Linked DNA regions of Homo sapiens: region 2 is linked to region 1. Evidence: fine-mapped expression QTL. Tissue or cell type: blood mononuclear cells. Region 1 holds a variant in brackets; the other region holds the start of a gene. All regions are shown on one strand. Distances are between the middles of the regions.

The links. PIP is the estimated chance that this variant, and not a neighbour inherited with it, causes the effect.
Region 2: it holds the start of TGFBI, and the variant in region 1 is fine-mapped to the expression of TGFBI in blood mononuclear cells (TOPMed, PIP above 0.99). The same link has a PIP of 0.9 or more in T cells, monocytes and whole blood.

Annotation. Positions count from the first base shown.
Region 1 is chr5:135,993,783-136,004,841 of GRCh38, reverse strand. No RefSeq gene overlaps it. Among named protein-coding and RNA genes, the nearest start is that of TGFBI, 30 kb to the left of the region's middle. RefSeq lists an enhancer at 2,975-3,476. The variant T/G (reference allele first, on the strand shown) is at 5,302.
Region 2 is chr5:136,023,045-136,032,844 of GRCh38, reverse strand. TGFBI (transforming growth factor beta induced) reads right to left here and starts at 3,857. Exons shown (of 17, transcript NM_000358.3): 1 at 3,656-3,857. The coding sequence starts at 3,789. It overlaps LOC105379189 (a long non-coding RNA gene), which reads left to right and starts at 6,952. Exons shown (of 4, transcript XR_948809.3): 1 at 6,952-7,027; 2 at 7,903-7,982; 3 at 8,066-8,186. RefSeq lists an enhancer at 1,571-1,640.

The sequences.
Region 1 (11,059 bases):
AAACTTGTGTAATGGGTCTCTGATGGGCTTCCCTAGACAGATACATCATGCATACGTTGTTTCATTTTTCTCACTGGTGAAGAGTAAGCTGTGCGTGACTCCTAATGGGTGAGAGAGAGCATGAGGAAACCTGCACATGAATTCCTCCAGACTGCCTGTGCCTTTTCCCTTCATGAGCCACTCATATATCCTTACAACACTGCTGTAATAAATCTTGGCTATGAGTACACTTTAAGCTGAGTACACTTTAAGCTGAGTTTTGTGAGTCATTTTAGTGGGTTTCCAAACAGCGATGGACCTGTGGCCTAGGGGATCCCTGACAGAGAGGCCTCACTGTGTCACAGGGGCTAAAACACATTCTAGCAACATATTTGAATTATAAGACTAATTTGTTTTCATGTCATGAGCATTGAGGGAAAAAAAATACCTCTTTCAAAGTTTACAAAATTGGTTGGCTTCAGACTTGTCCTTTGCCACCCTGTATAGAGCAGGCTTTAGAAAGTTTTGAAGGAAGAAAGTTAGGATCCAGTAATTTTGCAGCCTTATGAAGGCAACAGACAGACATTCTTAGACATTCAAGGACTTGAAATAGACTTATACTAGTGACTGAGGTAATAAACTTGAAGAACACAGGCCGGGCGCAGTGGCTCACGCCTGTAATCCCAGCACTTTGGGAGGCTGAGGCAGGTGGATCACCAGGTCACAAGATCGAGACCATCCTGGCTAACACCGTGAAACCCCATCTCTACTAAAAATACAAAAAAAAATTAGCCTGGCCTGGTGGCGGGCACCTGTAGTCCCAGCTACTTGGGACGCTGAGGCAGGAGAATGGCGTGAACCCGGGAGGCAGAGCTTGCAGTGAGCCGAGATCACGCCACTGTGCTCCAGCCTGGGCAACAGAGCGAGACTCTGTCTCAAAAAAACAAAAACGAAAACAAAAAACAACAACAACAAAAAGGGAATTCTGGATATGCAGCTCTTCTTTTATGGAGCATAGATCCCAAATTCAAAAGTCCAGTTGGACTGTGTTATCAGAGAATTCTGAGATTTTATGCTTAGCCCTTTGCTATTTCCCTAAGCTGTCCTTGGCTTCTGAAATTTTATAAGAAGACCAAGAAATTAATTTCTTATGCCATATCTTTCACCCTACAATTTAGGAAGTATCACCTGCAATGACGGATGGCCACCAAAGCTATTACGCAGTGTAGGTCTTTCTTAATGATTGTTAAACATAAAGGATGATGAGACCTATGGGTCTCAATTTGTAGGAGTACCTGTGTTGAGGATTGTGGCATTGAGGATTACTGTATTGAGCAAGATTCTGAGCCCCTTCTGAGCTCTGCGGGAGAGAATGCAGGGGTCAGTGAGTGACACCCAACCTGGGGAAAAAGGGAGCAGGGTGGTACATTCATTTCTTACCTGCTATTCTTGATGTATATATTCAGAAGATTGTGGTTTAAAAATTAATAAACAAAAATGACCAAAAATGAATATAAATACTTTCTGTAATTGTTGTGCTAGAAAATAAAATAACCGCAACTTCAATTTTAAACAATAGGACAATATCTGTATTTAATGCTAAGGTTTACTTAATATTTTAGGTAAGACAGAAAAAAAACTTTAAAAAATAAAATACTGTAGGAAGAAAGTACCAAGAAAAAGATTGATAGATTAGCTGCATAGCATTTTTGAACCTCTATTTCACAAAAATACAAAACATCATAAGCAAGATAAGAAGGCAGATAACAAACCGAGAGACATGTTTGCAACACAGGTGGCAAAGGATCAACATCCTTAATGTAAAAGGCTTTTGCAAATCAACGTAAAAATAAATTACCTAATAAATTACATTGTGTGAAGAGCATGAACATTGAGTTTACAGAAGGTTAAGTTAAAATTGACAATGAATGAAAAAGTTTCCTATTTGGATCACTAAAAAAAATGAAAGGTATAAAAAGGAATCATGCATTTAAAAAAATCTTCTTTGCTATTTTCGTAAATGAAAGATTATAATGCTTAGTGTTGCAAAGAGTAAAACTTTTCTTAAAGGCAATTTCCCTCATCTTTCAAAACTTCTTAAAGTATCATGCATGTCTATTAGCTCAAATTCCACTACTGGCAAATCAATGGATATAGCCTTAAGGGTATCTGTATTGAATGATCATCTCAGCATTATAATGACAACATTTGGAACAACCCAAAGTCAGGGGATTGGCTAAACAGGTTCAGCTAAATCTATGTAATGAGATATACGCAGCTGTTAAAATCATGCATACAGGACTATTGGTTGAATAGTCCCCATCTACTGCTTAGTGAAAAACAGGACACAAACTGCCTTGCATTTCATGTATAGTGTGTACGGTGGAGGTAGTTATGAGCTGTGAAATTTGGAGTTACCCAACCTGCAACTGAGTCCTGAGTCCTGGTCCCACCACACCTTCCTGGGTGATCTTGAGCGGAGCTCCTGCCCCTCTTAACTGCAGTGTCTTCATTTGTAAAAATGCTGTTAATGAAATTATTTACTCATAGGGTTGTACTATATGCAACCTGAAATTATCCCCTGCGAAGTACTTAGAATACTGCCTAACTCAGCAGCGTGCATTAGGTCCCGATATTTTTTTTTAATGATGCTAAAAAATAATCAAGAAAAATAGACCACTGACAGAACACATCAAAAAAAAATCTTGATAATGGGGCTGTTACTTTTTGCTTCTTTTCATTCTTCTAGGTTTTCTGCATTAAACGTAGAATACATTTACACTGTTCATAACACACACACAGGCAGACACACACAGACACACACACAGTAAATATCGACTTTACTAGGAGGTTACTATGAGTCTTGGGAAAACAGCTGAAATCCATCTTTCTAGAAAGAAAAGGAAGAAGAAACGGCCAAATGAGGGGGAAACCACCCCCACACTCTAGGAAACACAAGCTCCCCAGCCTCTTGGCCTTCAAGGCAGAGGAGGGCCACTCCCCAGCCTGCCAGCCAGCAGGCCATGGGGTCACCCTGTGGGGCCACACCCCATGCAGGCTGCATACTGCCCCATTGTCTAAGCATGGCCCCACTGAAGTCAACGAGAAACAGATGGTGAGAAACATTTCTGCTCTTCCACACCTAGGATGCGGTTCTGCTCTGAGCATCCAGCACCAGTGAGGCAATCTGCTTTTCATTTATGGGCAGAGAAAAGCCACAGAGGAAGGAATGAGGGAGGCCATAGTTCTCAGAGTGTCGGAGGAGTTGATGCAATAATAATTCAATTCCCCCTACTCTGAAAAGCAAGGCAGTCCAACCCGGCAGGATGCCTGCAGCCAGGGCTGTAAACTCCAGCTCACCTCAGGCTACCTCCAGCTGAGCAAGCCCACACCAGAACCTGTGGGCCTGAACTCTTGCAGGGGAAGAGTTCAAACAGGGCCTTTTCCAGTTTGCATCATGTGGCAGAGCCCTGTAGCCAATCAGCTGGAAGCGAGTTCCAGGTAGGTGGGATGGGAAGGATCTGGACTGGGGGGCCTCCTCACAAGGGAATCATCATGGACACTGGCAACTAGGGGGTAGCTCCTCTGGCCAGTGTAGTTCTTTCTTCCCTTTGCCTGGGTAGAAGCATGGACTTTGAAGCCAGCTGTCTGGGACCCTATCCCAGTTCTCTGCTTACTTGCTGTGTACCTTAGGTGAACTGCTTTAACTTTCTGAGCCCCTGCTTCCTCATCCGAATTGTGGGCATGAGACTAGTGTTACCCAACAGGAAATATGAAGACTGCAGGAGATAATCCATAGGAAGTGTCTACGCTGTGCTTGGGTCATGGAAAGTGCTCATTAACTGTTAGTTATTATTATTATTATAATTGCCAGATTCTCTCTGTGTCTTATTTCCTCTTTAAACCATGGCATAATTTACACTATGACACGCTCTTGTGCATAATTTCTTCTCATAGTCCTAACCAGTTGTAGTCTCTGCTTGAGGGTGATCTATGCCTGTGTACCCTCTATCGGTCCCCCTGGCAGTCACCATCCCTCTGGACAAAAATTTGCGTGGTCTTTGGAATGAGTCTGGGTAATTGAGTGGCAGCCAACCTCTGCCAGCATCCTCCCTCATCGGGAGACTGTGGAGCAGGGGCAATGGTCTCCTGAGCCAAAGAACAGCTTGCAGATGGCCCCAGTGAGAAGTGCCACTCTGAAGCCCTAAAAGATGATAAGGGAGAGTAGGAGAAGCAAGCCCAGAGAAGAAAGAAAGTGGAGAATGGTCCCCAGAGGAAGGGAGGCAAACAGGGAGCAACAGTTACACAGGTGACTGCAATGTGAGAAGCATCCAAGAACGGACAGAGTTTCAAAATGCTCAGGAAAAAGCAAGGTGCAGTCTTCTGGATGTGGTGGCAGAAAAGACCCCAAGAGAAAGACATCATCAACATAAAAGCCTGGAAAAAATAGGGATCATAAAGATGCCTGTGTGACTGACAAACAAATTAGAGGTGTAGGAAAAGAAAAGAGCGGGAATGGCAGGTTGCAGGTAATTGAGATTTTTCAGAACAAGATGACAAGTAAACTACATCAAAGCATGTCCAAGTCAGGTTTGACTGGCAGTTTTCCCTGAATGTGCTAATTACTCTTATTTGTTCTCAAACAAAAATTATTTATTTATCATGAGGGCTGAGGGCCCAGGGTGTGGGAGAGCATCTTCTCTCAGCAAGCAGGTGAGTAGCTCAGTTTGAATGACGGAAGATACATGACTATAGAGCAACACAGTCACTTTTCATCAAGATTGAACCCTATGGCTATATCTTTGAGAAGCCACTGCATCAAAGACCTGGCTCAGATAAGAGTTTCCGGAGAAAAAGAGAAGGTGGCAGCCAGAATAACTGTGATACTGTCCTTTTTGTACCAGCCAGGATAGGCTAGGTGATGCTGCAGTAACAAACAATCCTAAATCTTAGGGGCTTTAAACAACAAAGATTTATTTCTGTCATCTGTGCCACAAGTCCATTTCGGGTTGGCTGGAGTTCTGTTCTGCATCCCTTCAGGGACCCAGGATAATGAAGCAGCCACCGTCTCAAACTGCTAGTCACTATAGCAGAGGACAAGGGAGTTGAGACAACACACACACTCACACACACACACACACACACACACACACACGGGCTCTTAAAACTTCAGCTCAGAATGATAGACATCATCCCTGCTCAGATTTCACCAGCCACAGTCAGGCACATGCCTATACTGAATTGCAAAGGGGATGGGGAAGTAAAATCCCACTTCCGCTGCTCAGAAGAAGAAACAGAATGTATGTGAACAGCCCTAATGAC[T/G]CACCAAACATCCATTCCAGGAGCAGGCCTCCCTGCCCGTTACTCAGCTGCCCCTCCCTTGGCCTGCGACCCCTTCAGTGGTTCTCAGTCATCTCTGCCCCTGTCCCCATCACTATCTTCAAGGCACATTTTGGATGAGATGATTGGGCATAGTGCTTCCAAATGGACTCTAATCATAAAATGAAGGAGAACACAGACTCAGAGTATTGGTGCAGAGCAGAATCTCTGAGAGGACCTAGCCCACAGCCCCTGCCTTTCTAGATGGAGAAATAGGAAGTCAAAGGAAAAACCATGTGCAATGCGCAGAATTCTAAGATGGGTCCTAAGATTCCTGGTCCCTGCTGTGCAGGCATCATCTCCTCCCTTTGAGTGTAAGTGGGACCCGTAAATAAGACTGGCTGTCACTCCAGTGACATGTTACTTTGTATGGCAAAAGGGACTTTGCAGATGTAATTCAGGCACTCTCCTGCTGGCCTGAAGGAAAGTAAACAGCCATGCTGTGAACTTCCCGTGGAGGGGACCTGCACGGCCCTCTAGGACCTGAGCGCAGCCCCTAGATTGGCTAGAAAATGGGACCTCAGCCCTACAACTGCAGGAACTGAATTCTGATTACCGGGAACCCTGAGCTCCAAATGAAAACATAGCCCTGGTTAACACTTTGATTTCAGCCTGATGAGATTGTGAGCTGAGAACCCATCTCCTCTATGTCCAGACTCCTGACCCATGGAAACTGTGAGATTAAACAAAAAAAGCCACTGTATTGTTTTAAGCCACTAAGTTGAAGGTAATTTGTTACCCAGCAATAAAAACAAGTATGTGAAAATGGGAGACTGTGTAGCAGGGCCATGGTCTCCTGAGCCGAAGAACAGCTTGCAGATGGCCCCAGTGAGAAGTGCCACTCTGAAGCCCTAAAAGATGATAAGGGAGAGTACGAGAGACAAACACCTCTAATTTGTTTGTCAGTCACACTGGCATCTTTATGATCCCTATTTTTTCCAGGCTTTTATGTTGATGATGTCTTTCTCTTGGGGTTTTTCTGCCGCCACATCCAGAAGACCGCACCTTGCTTTTTCCTGAGCATTTTGAAACACTGTCTATTCTTGGATGGCTTCTTACATTGCAGTCACCTGCGTAGCTGTTGCTCCCTGTTTGCCTCCCTTCCTCTGGGGACCATTCTCCACTTTCTTTCTCCTCTGGGCTTGCTTCTCCTACTCTCCCTTGTCATCTTTTAGGGCTTCAGAGTGGCACTCATCATGGCAGTGGCAGGTCCTGCAATTTGAGCAGTATTCAAGGCCTTTTCGTGATTTCTGTCCCACTTGCTGAACACAAACTCTCTATTCCAGGTCTGGCGGCATCTTTGCAGCCTCTCACCTGCCAGGATTGCTCCCCCTGTGGTCTTCCTCTGCCTGCTTCCCAGGGCAGGGCTCCATCCAGCGTCATTTGATGGAGCTTTCACATGCCATTCCCCAATAAAATAAAATGCCCTGAAGTGACCCCGGCCCCCTGTACTCTTCCATTCTCTGCCGGTTCCATAGCATCCAGCACAACTACAAGCCTCCCTGCAGTTGATTATATCCCAATCATATCCAATAATAAAATTCCACGAGGATTAAATCATTTAAATTGTCTCTTTTTGCCAAGACTTTAAGCTCTCTAAGGGCAACAGACGTGTTTACTCCAGGTGCTACATCAGGAATCAGAAAAGGCATTTGTACTTGTAATACACCAAACTGGAAACAGCCCAAATGTCTATCACTGAGTGAAGAGAGAAACAAATTATCTTATTTCCATACAATGAGATACTGCTCAGCTAAAAAAAAGAACAAATTATCCATAACATGCTATAACATGGGTGAATCTCAAAATCGTAGGCTGAGTGTAAGATATAAATGATATCTACTGTATGATAATTTACATAAAAATCTAGACAAAGCAAAACTCATCTATATTGACAGGAAGCAGGTGGGTGTTTGCTCATGGCTGGGGTTGGGGGGATAATGGCAAACGTTGCATTCTGGGGTGATGGAGATGTTCTGTGTCTTGATTGTCGTGGCGGCTATGTGGATGTACACGTTTGTCACAACTCATCAGATTGTATACTTAAAATATATACATTTTATTACACATAAATTATGCCTCAATAAAGTTGACTTGGAAAAAAATCTTTGTATATTCTGAGTCAGCTAAAGCTTTGTTGGAAATGCTTTGAGACATGATTTCTCATGTCTCATGATTTCTCAACATGATTTGAGAAGGGTGAGCCCAAGAAAACATCTACAGACTTCTGTTTAGGTAGAGCCATCTCCCAGAGACAGATGAGCTCCCAGGCTGAGAGCAAAGATATGCCTCAAAAGGTAAGTTAACCGACTTAAAGAGAGATTGCTTGGCCAGAAAAACCCAGAAAAAGAACAGAGAGGATGGCAAAAAGGACCCATGTATTCAGGCGGAAAGGCCTAGATTGGGGGGTTCAAGGATAGTCTGGCTGTGAGCTCTCCCCATGCTGTGTGGTGGGGTGGAGCTCTTTCAGCGGTCTCACCATGGCCCAGAGAAAGAGCTTTTGGGACCAGCCACACTGCTTTGCTCTGAATCCACAGCCACTCCACTGGCCACCAGCCTGATTAACTTCTAGGGAAGCCGGGTCCTGGGAAGAAGGCATGAAGTTTCTAACAAATATGAAGGCATCATCATCTGGATGAAGTGTCAGAGGACCATAGTCCAGGCAATGCTGCCTGCTGTGGCTTTTGATTAGTCAGGCATGACCCATTCCTCCCACTGTCACTCAAGACACTGCCCGGAGAGACAGGCACAGCCAGGGCAGCAGCCAGAATGCTGAGGATTTTGTGGGTTACCTAAAGCTGTGGAGAAGCCAGCAGGGCTCCAGACCTGGAGAGAGCCCCATAAAAAGAAAACATTCCCTTCTTTGGTAGAAAAGAAATGATACCCGAGCAGCTAGCAACCCTGACTGTGCAGAGGCAAAAACCAAGTTCTGAGGTAGGAAAAGAAAGTGTTTGTGTGAAAAGCCCGGGGGCTTGGAAGAGCCTCGGAAATGAAACAGGAAAGGAGGGAAGAGAACAGGAAAGCTCAGCTGGCTGCTGTGGGGCTCAGTGGCGAGGCATGAGCAGCAGCAGAGGCTGAAAGGGGCAGAGAGGGTGCTCACAAGGAAAGGCAAGGGGAGGAGAGCTCTGCAGTCTTAATGGGGGCATGGGGGTTGTGTGTACAATGGCTGCAGGGTGGACCCTCCTCTTGACCAAACCCCAAGTGCCCTCCGTCCCCCTGAATTCCAAGCATGATTATCAGCACTACTTTCCACTGGAGTCACCCAGCCCAACACTTGTGCGCACTGCCCTGACTCCAGCACTCCATAACCCAGCCGTCTAGACTCTGCAGTCTTCTGGCCCTAAGTCAGGGGTTGTCCACTCCTCTCTGGGGAGATGACTAGAACCTCTTAATTAGCTTCTCTCCCTCCCCACTTGTTAAACCTTATCAGCAGGTACTCCATCATGGAGAAGGAAACCAGTGCATGTTAAGCATTTATTATCCTAGGCATTTTAATTATAATTCTCATAACAGCCAGATGAAGAAGGCAGCACTATCTCCATCTTATGAAGAACCCGAGGCTCACAAGGGTTTAGTGATTTCCCCAAATTCAAACAGCTAGGAAGGGGCCAGCCGAACCAGGATCTCAACTTTCTTTCATCCACTGCTCCCACGTGGATCTTAAATACAAATCCATTCAATTCATTTCCCTGGTTAAAATCCTTCAGTGTCTTCCCACCGCTTACAGACATGTTTCTTTCAATATTTTTTGTCCTTATAGAACTACTTTCTAAAAAAAAAACACTTGTTTTACTTTATTTGTGCTAATATAACAAAACACCACAAGCTAGGTAATTTATAAACAATAGAAATGTATTTCTCACAGCTCTGGAGGCTGGGAAGTCCAAGATCAAGGTGCTGGTAGGTTTGGTATCTGGTGAGGGCTGTTCCCCACTCCCAAGATGGTGCCTTGAGCACTGCATCTTCCAGAGGCGAGGTATGCTATCTTTGCATGGCAGAAGGCGGAAGGGCAAAAGGGGCAAACTCCTTCTGCCAAGCCCTTTTATAAGGGTATCTAATCTTATTCATGAAGGCAGAGCCCTCGTGACTTAATCACCTCCCAAAGGCATACCTCCCAATACTGTTGCATTGGGGATTATGTTTCAACATAGATTTTGGAAGGAACAAAAACATTCAAACCACAGCAAATCTTTACATGAAATGCTACCCTATCACACAGAAAACAGCAGAGCTGACCCAGTGTGAGTGGGGGTAAGGCACAGCATCCTGTCTCTACTTTCATAGTTGACATGTCCACTTGAAGTTTCAGCACCATGTCAGTTTGTTTAAGGTTGAACTCTTGATCTAACTCCCAGTATCTCCCAGAGTTTTCTATCTTAAAGAATGGTTGGACCATCCATTCCAGAGCCTGTGAGCCACCTCTCTCACCATCTTCACCCTCATCCTCCTTAAGTACATTCAATTTTGCCTTCTACATCTCCCTTGAAGAAGACTTTGTCCTTCATTTGCACTTTCATCACCCAAGCATCCAAATCCAAGCTCTTACAGCCTCTTACCTAGAATAGGGGCACAGCCTCCTTACTTGCACCACAGAGCCCTGGCAGTCCACCCCCAACACAGTACTCAGACTGTGCTGACAGAAAATTCCCAGCAAAAGGAGAGGGCCACTCTGACATGGAATGTCCTGACATCCAAGTGTCATTATCATTTAGCAACCTCCCCCATCAAATACGACAGTATTTCCTCTTACTTATTATTTTATTAAAAAATGTTATAACTTTGAGATGAAACTATGCACTAAAAAGTAAGCTAAGGGTCAAAAGAATTGAGGGCTGGTTGTTTGAGTTGCTGTGGGGCCACTGAGTTTCCCCAGCTATAGAGCAGAGTTAGTTACTAGAATCTGCTTCTTCTCTCTTGCCCACAGTTGTTATGGAAATAACTTATGTAAAATGTTCAGAATTAATTACAATGAACATATACAACTAAAGCACTCTTATGTCTCACTGACATGAAATAATAAATTTGGATATATGGACATCTGGTTGACAATGTGACATTCCAAGATCTAAAACAAATTTGATGATGTAATTAAATACCAATCTTTCTACTTTTACTTGTATATAGGACAAGATCCCTCGCAGAACCTATTTATATGTATACTTGGAGCTGGCCTCATGGTCACATAAATCATAGGAAAATTTGGAGCAGATGTTGCAGGGTAGCTGGAATTCTCCTGTTAGGACTGCGTTTTAATGGAAAAATGACACAGAGCAGACTTCCCACATGCTTCACAGATAGAGTAATAGAGCTACTTGAAAGGAACATTTATATTCTAGATAGGCTGATTTTTAATCAACAAACGTGATTGCTTTATTATTGTCTGGTCTCGGATGAGTCATTCAGCAGAGTGCACAGGCATTTCCGGACAGGAGGGGAATGGGCCACAAGGGAGAAAGCTTTACAGTACCTTGTATGTCTGTCTGTCTGTCAGTGTGGCCTTGAGCTCTTTCTCCTCTTGCTGGTAGTAGAGATCTTCCCTGGGGCCTTTGACAGTGGCCTCCCATGGGCTTGCAGCCTCAGAAACTTTTATTTGCGAGGAAAGGGGTAAATGTGAGCTAAACCTGAAATCCCACGAATTACAGAAAAGAACTTGTTGGCAGCACACACGCAAAGATTTTCGAAATCCTCTGTTTCGCTGGTG
Region 2 (9,800 bases), 29 kb before region 1:
CCTGACCCAAACTGTGCTCAGGCCAGGTGATTGTGAAAGCTTCATTAGGAGCCCCTAGGGAAAGGAAGCTGCTGTGCTACGTGGTCAGTCAGGAGAGGCGTGGTCAGTCAGGAGAGGGTTGATCTTCCTGAGCCAGAGGCAGGCATGCATCTGACTGAATCACAAGTCAGAGGAAAGCAAATAAAACAAACAATACTGAGGGCTTTCACAAGACCTCCAAGCTCAGAGAACTTCAGGTATCACCCAAAGGATGAAGTATTTCTTTAACATCAATTTCCCTGTTACTTTAAGAATGCCATCCACAGACATCACTTGATGTGCAGCGTATTTGTTAAGAAGACACCAATATTGCAGTAAAAACTACACCTACTGTCCCCATCATGATTCCTCTGCAGGAACTTGAACAATTCTCAAATATTCAGAGTCAGGCTTTTGGGTGGGAGTCCATTCTGCCCCTTCATTTCTCTGCCCTGTCTCTTCTGCGGTGATATGACTGTCACCTCTTGGCCAGTTTTTTGTTCAACAGGTGAAAGTGAGTGGGCCCAGGAGGGACAATGAGCATTAATGAATCCATGTAAGGATCTAGGGACAAGAGAAGTGAAGGCTGGAGAAGGGACCACAGCCAGCAGAGGCCCATGCCTCCCTAGTCCTAGCTGGGCCTGACCAAATCCTCCAGATTTCTGAATACCTGGTTTCTGTTTGCTGCCTAGGATTCACAGGTTAGACAGTCCCTGAATAACCCCTGAAGAGTCCTTGCTGGCCATACTCCAGCCCCCGGTCCTATTTATTGTTACAGAATCCCAGAAGCTCTTCAATCTGATCAAGCAGGAAACAATTACTGTCAATGAATTCCCTGCCACTTTCCGTAGGCGTTTGGCGAATCTTCAGTGAGTCTCTTGTGGATGTGGCTCCAACATTCCTTTGCTGAATGTTTCCACTGCTGCTGTCCTTGTGGCAGCAGCAGAGGCTGGGGGCGGCTGTGACCCTCTCCTTCTCACATCGGGGAGTGTGGGTGGGCTGTGTACATAGGAAGTTCATGCTGAAGCTTAATTGAAATGAGCAAGTTGCTTCTGGGCCTCAAGAATAACAGCATTGATGTTCAGCTTAGATTTGAAAACCAAGTGCTTCAGGAAATTCAGTTCAGTTTTTGGTGGTTGATGTTTGGAAGTGTGATTGTATTTTTACTTCTCTTTCAGTATTATTTTTCCCCTTCCCTATAGCAACACAGATATAGCTGGGAGTCAAGAGACCATATCATAGTTATTACTCTCCCAACAGCATTCTGTGTCTGAACTAAGTCACTCTCTACCTCACTAAGCTGCAGTTTCACCTCCTGTAAAATGGGAACATGAACAGTAGATCTCACTGTGTTGTGGTGAGGTCGAAAGCAAAAGCGGCAATCGAGTGCTGCGCACAAGCAAGGCACAGCTGTTATTTCTTCCTTCATATCAGGCAGCACGCTACAATTCCTTAAAATAGCAAAGTTTTCCTTCCCTTTCTAACAGTTTTCACTTTGAATGAAAGGCTGGAGCTAGAACAACGTTATCCATTTGCACAAGGCGCCACAGCCCTGTGTGCCAGGCCAGGCAGCCCTGTGGCATTAACAGGGACAGTTAGATCAGAGTAAATACAACTGTGCCTGCAACCATTTTGCCATGGTTCATGTGCCTGCGCATCCAGATTCTACTGGGACAGGGGTGCTCCTGTGACTTCTTAGATTACTCTGCCCATCACAGATTACAATAGGCCTTTCCAGCTGTGCTGCAGGAAGCTAATTAAGAGGCTTTGCCTGCAGGGGTATGGTGGGGAAGTTGATCTAATATCTGGAACTCATAATCAAGAGCATCTGCATTTAAGAAAAAAACCCTGTTTTCCAGCTGGTCAGCACTCTTCTGGGCTCTGAAGGGAAAGAGGTTTGCTGTAAAGATGGCTCTTGATGGAAAGCCCTCAATACCTTTGAGGATCCTTCACTGTGGCTGTGCAGAGAGATGCCCTTACAGGTGACACTGTTGCAGGGCATGCTATAAGGATCTTCTCCTGACTTAGTGGCGAAGATACAGAAGAAATAGAACCCTCCTAGGCAAATTGAGGCACCCAAACATAACACAATTCATTGGCAGGAAAGGCAGAGAGACCAACGGAGAGGTGGGCAGAGATAATAAAAATGCCAGGTGCTTGCATTTTGATGTTGAGGCCTCATATCCCTCTCATCTTTCTGACATCCCCCCTCACTCTATTCTGCACACTGCCCAAGTCAAAGCTGATTCTCCCACTTCCAGAAAGACCCCAGGATATCCCCAGTATTCTCCTCTTTCCAGGAGGGTGTTGAGGTTGCAGCCAGGCCTGGTTTGATTTCACTCTGCAGGGTGGCCAGATGTGCTCCCAGCAGGCCCTCTCCGCCAGAGCCCCAAACTCCTGAAAGGCCTAGACCATAAAGCCACAAGTAGAGGAAACAAGAGCAACTATGCCCTACAAGGGGCAGCCTGTACCCGTACCCAGAGCACTCCTAGTGCAAGGAGCCAAGACTTTCAGGGCCTGTGAAGTCAACTCTATCACCCCCAACAATGAGTTTTGATTTGAGCACAGATCTGCCCAGTCTCTTGGAGGTTTGGGCATTGCTTGTGGGTGTGAACGCCAGACCCCGATGGTATTTAGGCTTCCTCTGAGGAGTCACTACAAGATTCTACTCATATATAGTTTTACCTAGTTATGAAAAAGAAGTTGGTGCAACCAGGTAGGCTGGAAGCTGCAGCAAAGCCTGGGTATTTGTGACGCAGGTATGGCCTGGTTTTTGAGGTAGAAATGTTGCCTGCCTCTGCCTGGGTCAGTATTAGGGCCACTATCAGACCAGACCTTCTGCTTGAGTTTGTCTCCTAAAGCCAACACATCTTCAGGGTCTCAAAGGAATTCCTGCAATGATAGTGTCCTACATTTACAAACCCAGCTATTACTTTAAGACAGACTCCAATCCTGGCTCCAGTGCACACTTCAGGACTGTGGGAAAGTGGAACCACTCAGGACTCAGTTTCCCCATTTGAACAGTGTGTGTGAGGGCCCAGTGCATTCTCCTGCTCTTCATCGGGCAGGACAAGAAGTGCCACATTGCCCTTGCTGTACCCAGAGAGCAGTGTCGGGTGCCAGCAGTGTCTGAGTGCAGGGCCTGGCCAGGAGCACAGGAGCCTGGGGCACCTTAGATGCTGCCACCGTGTGTGGCCCAGGTTCTTGTCTGGAGTCGCTGGCCGGGGGCCTGGCTGGGTTGGAATAGGTGTACTGCTGGGTGGGCTTTGCCCTTGGCACCCTCCCACGGTGATTATGGCCAAAGAGTTGCCATTTCCCCCTTTCTGCAGTGGCTGGGAGGAGAAGCTGAAAGCGCTGTCCGTCTCAGGCTCTTGGCCTGCGTCGAAAGTCTCTGGTCCACTTCCCCACTCCCTTCTACAAAGCGGCGGCCTCCCGCTTTCCCTCCATGGTCCTCCACCTCCCTCCCTCTCTCCTTCCACCGCGTGCAGGGCTGGTGTCCGAGCGCTCCATGCTGCAAGGTTTTTAGTTCGGGCTTTGTCCCCTGCGCCCCCAGCCCAGTTCAATGCCCCCAGCGGCTTGCGCTCCGAGCCCCGACTACCTGACCTTCCGCAGCCCCTGGCCAGGCGGCTCGGCTTACCCGTGCTGGCGGCCCCGGAGCCTGCTGTGCTGCAGCACCAGCTGGTAGGGCGACTTGGCGGGACCCGCCAGGGTCGCGGCGGGGCCCAGGGCCAGAGCCAGGGCGAGAGCCAGCAGCCGCACGAAGAGCGCCATGGAGCGGGACGACGCGCACCGAGCGAGCTAGCGACCGACGGGCAAGCGGGCGGCTCCAGGGAAGTGAGAGCGCCTCCGCCGCCCGGGCCAGGTTAAGTAAGCTGCGAGCGGGAGGGAGCGGACGCCAGGGGCGGGGAAGCTGGGCCGGCCCGTGCAAGGAGGGCGGGCCGCCTGGCGCCTCCCAACCCGTGCGCCCCTGGCTGCCCTGGGCACCCACCCGCTCCCGCACTGTGCCCGTGCTCAGTTTTCCCAGCCCTTGCCCTCACTGCCAGCCCTCCCTCCCTCTCTCCCTCGCCACAGTCTTCCTCAAACCAAGGGTATAGGTCCCTTAGGCCTCCTGTGGCTGCTTCCAAATGGGGACCTTGGGACTGAGGGACAGCTGTCTCGGGGGCTTCGGTCCTGCATGCTGGGGGCCCGAAGATTCCCTCACTGATCTTGAGGCTACAAAACACTGCAGGGAGGGGTGAGGGGAGGCAGTGCTGATTCCCAGAACACCATGGCCCATCAGACTTGTTTCTGCACCCCAGGAGCTGACCACCCTCCCCAGCTCCTCAATCTCTAATCCCTCCACCCCCACCCCACCTGTCATGCTCATTGAAAGACAGATGAGTAAATCGTGTGATCCACAGAAACGCCAAAAATGTGGGGCAGGTTTTGTTGGGCTCTAAGCTGCTTTTGGAGCCCGTGGGGAAGGGTGGGGTCCTCACCTTGGTACTAATTCATTCCCTTCTTCAGTAAACATCTCTGCAACAGTACCTGCCAGATAGATTCTGCAAAGGCAAGAGTCCTGCCCTGGAGGAGCTCAAGGCAGGTAAACAAATTGTCACATGGTAAAGAGGTGATACTTACCCAAGCATCTATTAATCACCTGTCAGTTACTTGGCACTGCTAGCCCTGGGGAGACACAGATGGATTAATAGAATGAGTGAGACCTAAGCCCTTTGTGAAAAAGCTCCAATTTGGGAAGATCCGTAGCCCAAGCCAATGATGTTCCATGAAGAGTAGCTGGGGCTTTGGGAGCTAAGAAGAGGCACCTGGCCCTGACAGGGTGATACCTGCTCTGAGGCCTGAAAGATGAAAATGAGTTAATCAGGTAAACTGAGGCATGCATTCACGAAACTCAAGTTATCTGGTTGGCTGAAGCACAGGGAGGTGGAGTCAAGGGTAGGGAAGAAGGGGAGGAAGGTAGCAGGGCCCAGACTCCAGCTAAGAGCCTAGCGGGTGATGGGTGGAGGCAAGTGACATGGCCAGTGTCATGAGAGGCTTAAGGAGGCAAGAAGAACAGGTAACCAGGAAGGGACCATGGGAGAGCTTGAACTATGGTGGTAGAGGCAGAGATGGGGAAGGCTGGGCAAATGTGAGGGGTGTAGGAGGTAATAGTCTCAATAGAATTTGGAGTCTGTATACAGGGAGAAGGGGAGAAAGGAGAGTCAAGGATATTGTAGGGTGTTTGTGGTCTGGACATTGCAGCAGGTGATGGTGCCATGTTCAGAATGAGGCACATGCAGAGTGCAGGCTTGCCAGGTAGATGAGTGGTTTGGGACACCCTGAGTCTGAGGTGCTTATGACTCATCCTGGTGAAGCATCCCATGAGGATAAAGCTGGATATGAGGATCGGGGGCTTGAGTGAGGGACGCGGGATGAAGATTCACACCTGGGAGTCATCCTCCAGTGACAGAAGAGCCCAGGAAGTAGAGAATGTGGGGTTGTAGTCAAGGAGGGGTATCCTAGTAGGAGGGCGCTGCTCAAAGTGAGGAATGCTGCCAACAAGACAGATCTGAATGGCTTTCACTGTGTCAGAAGCAGAGAGGCCACTGGGGACTTGGCTGTGGAGAGCAGATGGCCAAAGCCCGAATATGGTGGTTTGATGGAGAGATGAGTAGCATGTAGAAGCTTGTCTGAGAAGGGAAGGGGCGAGTTAGGATGGCAGCCAGGGAAAGAAAAAGACAAGCGGGGCTTGGAGAGGTTAGAACTCTGGTAGAAAGAAGGTGGGAAGGAGAAGGGAGAGAGTGTGGGCACTGGAGGAGGGCCTACTGAGAGCATAAAGCAACTGAGGGCCTGCATGGGGAGTGATCAAGCTAGTGGAGAGGAGGGAACAGGTGTATGGGAGATTTTAGTGGTAGCATTGATTAGACTTGGAAACCCCTTGGGCATGCAGGGTTAGGGAGGGGGAGTAGAGCTAACCTCGAGGCTCATAGCTGGCAGGAAGGGATGCCTGTGCTGGGCACGCTGGTGAAGGTGCACATTTGGGTGTGTGAGGAGAGTGCTCCATTTGTGTTCACATTATGTGTGAACAAGCCACCTGCATTTCCAGGAGGGATGGACAGGAGGGAGCTATATTCAAAGGTCTTGAGCTCAGGATAGGTATGAGGATTGGAGATGCAGATTTGAGTCACCACTACGAGCAGGTGGTAGCTAAAGTCATGCACTGGATGAGCTTCCTTGGGAGCAGGTGTTGGAAGAGAGGAGGAGGAGGAAGGAGAAGAAAAGGAGAAGATGGGTTCAAATACCAGTCTTTCTACTTCCTAGCTGTGTGGTCTTGGGCAAGTTATTCAACCTCATAGAGAGGATAATAAAACCTACCTCACAGGACTCTAAACTAGATTACATGATACAATTCAAGTAAAATGGCCAATAAATATGCATTGCTATTATTATTATTACCTCTCCCCAGTCATTGTTCTATATAGTAGGGTTCAATGAAACAATATGATAGTTTTGAGCAACTACAGAAATAATTATCTGAAAATGCTCATTTCATTTATTGAAAGCAAAACATTTCTCGGTTTCAGCATGACTGCTTGGCATAGGATAATGGGAAGAACCCAAAGGGATTCAAGCTCAGGCTGACTCCCAGAACAAGTTTCCCCTGAGACCAGTAGAATTTGGCTGCATTGCAGTTTCTAGGAAAAATGCTCCTTGTATGTAAGAGGCCAGGAGCCCTGCCATCTGGTTCCAGCTCTCTCTCTAGCAAGATTTAGGGCAAGTCAAGCAAGTTCACTGGACCTCACTTCTCCAGTCTGCAAAACTAACATTCGATGACTTGAGTTTTTCCATGAGCTCAGTAAAGAGATTGCAGTAATACTTTATTTATGGTTTAGATATTTTTTTAAAATCCCACATCCATGCCCCACCACCCATCCCCTCTTTCAAACATGAAAAGCAGAATGCTGTGAGTATAACCATTCTCCCACCTGAGGTTGCTGCTTCTTTGGAGACAAGAGTGATGCTGCTGGAGGTAAGAGCAGGGACCCTCCATCCCCAGATGACCCAGAGCCAACCAGGCAAACACAGAGCACCAGAAACCCTGTCATTTGAGAAAGAATTTTTTCCTTCCAGATTAAACAATCTAAACAGGAGAAAGTGAGGCTTGCTTGGAAGAATCTTTACTAGACTTTTTCAAGCACTTTTTAAAAAATGACTGCTTTTACATTTTGTGGCACATGAAAGGTCACCAAAAACATTCAGGTTTTGAAAATAATACTGTAGGGTATGACAACAAGCTTTATGCATCATGATAAATTAGTAGTTCCAACAAGTTCTTCACAAAGGAACCTAGGAAAGAAACTGGTTCTGGGCCTGTTGGTGGGAGAGCTGGCATCTGCAGCCCAGCTGACACCAGGCCTGCCTTTTCCTTACTCCCTAAAGTTCCTGGTGATGCTTGGGCATACATGGAGACAGAAGATACAGTCAAAATCATTTTCAGAGGCCACCATATAGCTAAATAAAGAGCTCTTAAAATTCAGCTCCCCAAGACTTGCTAGGGAGAAAAAAAGGTGAGTTTTGGCAAGAGATATCCAAATGAAAAGATGTGAATCAAATTTTGGGGAAAATTGCCATCCCTTGTGTAACACACAGAACTTAGAATGGTACTTCATATACAGTAATTGTTTTTTCCATGTTACAAATAAAGGTAAGAAACATCTCAGTTTACTAACATTAAGGTGTGATTGTAGTACCATTTAGGGGATTTTGGATTGATTTCTCAAGGATTTTCCACAGTCTTGCCACTCAAAATGTGATCTGCAAAACAGCATCATCAGCACAACCCCAGAGTTCATTAGAAATGTGGAAAATTTAAAAATTTTTTATTTATTTATTTATTTTTTCTAGCTCTCATGAAGAAACGTGGAATCTTATAACCTCCCAACCTCCCAAGACCCACTGAATCTGCATTTTCACCAGATCCCAAGGTGATTTGTATGCACAGGACTACAGGGTCATGTTAAATAGCTATGAGCTCAGAGGTGGTTAACAGAGGATTCAATTTATGTAGGCATGGAAGAAACGAAATACACCTGAAAATGTGTACCAGTGAAGTGACCACAGAGGAACTCTCATCTTCCGCTGAGGCCCAGCTCACTTTGTGGAAGACCTTCAAGATGCCCAGGCACAAGGTCAGTAGTTGCATATTCAGTGTCTTCCACACACTGGACAGGGAGGGGAAATTGGCCACAGTCACCTTCCATTCTTCTCTCTTTTCAAAGCCCGCAAGGGAGGCTGGGATAATCGACAGGTTTGTAATGGCAGGAACTTAAAACAAACTTGAGGCTTCGGGCTCTGCAATTGATGGGAACAGAACAGCCGTCGCAGCCCTAGAATGGCATTAGGCCCCAGTGTTTAGTTTCTTAAATGACTTGGCTGTTTTCACAACTTCTCCAAACACTGGCTTTCTTAATCAGGGCCTGCCAAATGCTACTTGTTGGTTAGAACCCAATTTCATTTTCCAGGGAAACCGATTTTTCATGAGAGTTTCATTGATTTGGCTCAGCTAAAATATCTAAGAAGAATCCAGAGGCACTTTTGAGGTTGCTTTAGTTGCCTGACCTCAAATACTTTAGTGGAAGGATGCCCACAGATGATTGTTGGCTTACACATGCCTTTCCTCTGCTTCCCACGAGTTTTCTTGCACGTAGGATAAAGGCCTTCAGGGAAATGGACACCACCCAGCAGCAATTCATTCCAAAATGCAGAAATCCCTTGGCTCTTTCGTCCAGCTCCCCTTCTTCATTTCTTCATTCTTGCCTGTGGTGCCGCTCAAGGTTGGAAACCTTGCATTCAGTTTTGCCTGTCCCTGCTCTCTGGTCCCCCACGTGCAATCAGTCACCAAGATCCTGCAGGTGTTCTTTCCAAATCTCTCCTAGATGCTTCTGTTCCCTCTTTTGCTACTCAAATACTCCAGCTCCCCACTGCCTTACCTCTCACCACCCACAGCCTCCAGCCAGTCTGACATCAGCTGCCACCCCAGCCAACCATCTCCCAACGTGGCTGGTCTTATCTTCCTAAAACACTTCTACCAAAACACTGCACTCCTAGGACACTCCCGATGGCTTCTATTGTTTGTAAAAGAAAATCCAGACTTCTCTGATTGTTTATTTATTTTTTTGATGAACATTTTATCCTCCCCAGCACCCCACCATGTTAAAAAGGAATACAGGCACATTACCAAAAAAAGAAAAACCTTAAAAAATACTGAAAAGGCTAGATAAGAGGAACACACACATCCATAATCCCTATACTGAAAGAACTTCCCATGTATTGCCCTCTTTCTACTGTACCTGGCTTCTAAAGTCCTCTGCAAAATTCCCCCTTTGCTTCATGTAACCTGCTTTCCCTGTGTCCCAGTCTCAGCCTGGGCTCTTGCAGGGCCAGCCTGTGCCTCTTCCACCCACTCAGCCCCCCACCCCCAGCCTTGCTCTGCTCCCCGTGTAGTGAGCACTGTGCTCCTTCTTTGCCTCTACACACGTATGCGATACTCTCCCTCCAAAACCAGCTTTGCTAAGAAGCTTTGCTCAGGCAAATTCCTTCACCTCTCTGGGCTGCTGTTTTTTCAGCTGGTCTCCCTTCCGTGGCTCTCCCACTGGATGGAGCCTCTCCTTTTTGAAGTCTAACATCCGTCATCACAGTGAGCCCATGTGTTTGTTCCTCTGATTCTCTAACAGCCTCCTAATAAGTCAGCACGGAGCCCAGTTAGCATTTGCGGATCCATCAGTTGACTGGCTTCCTAAATT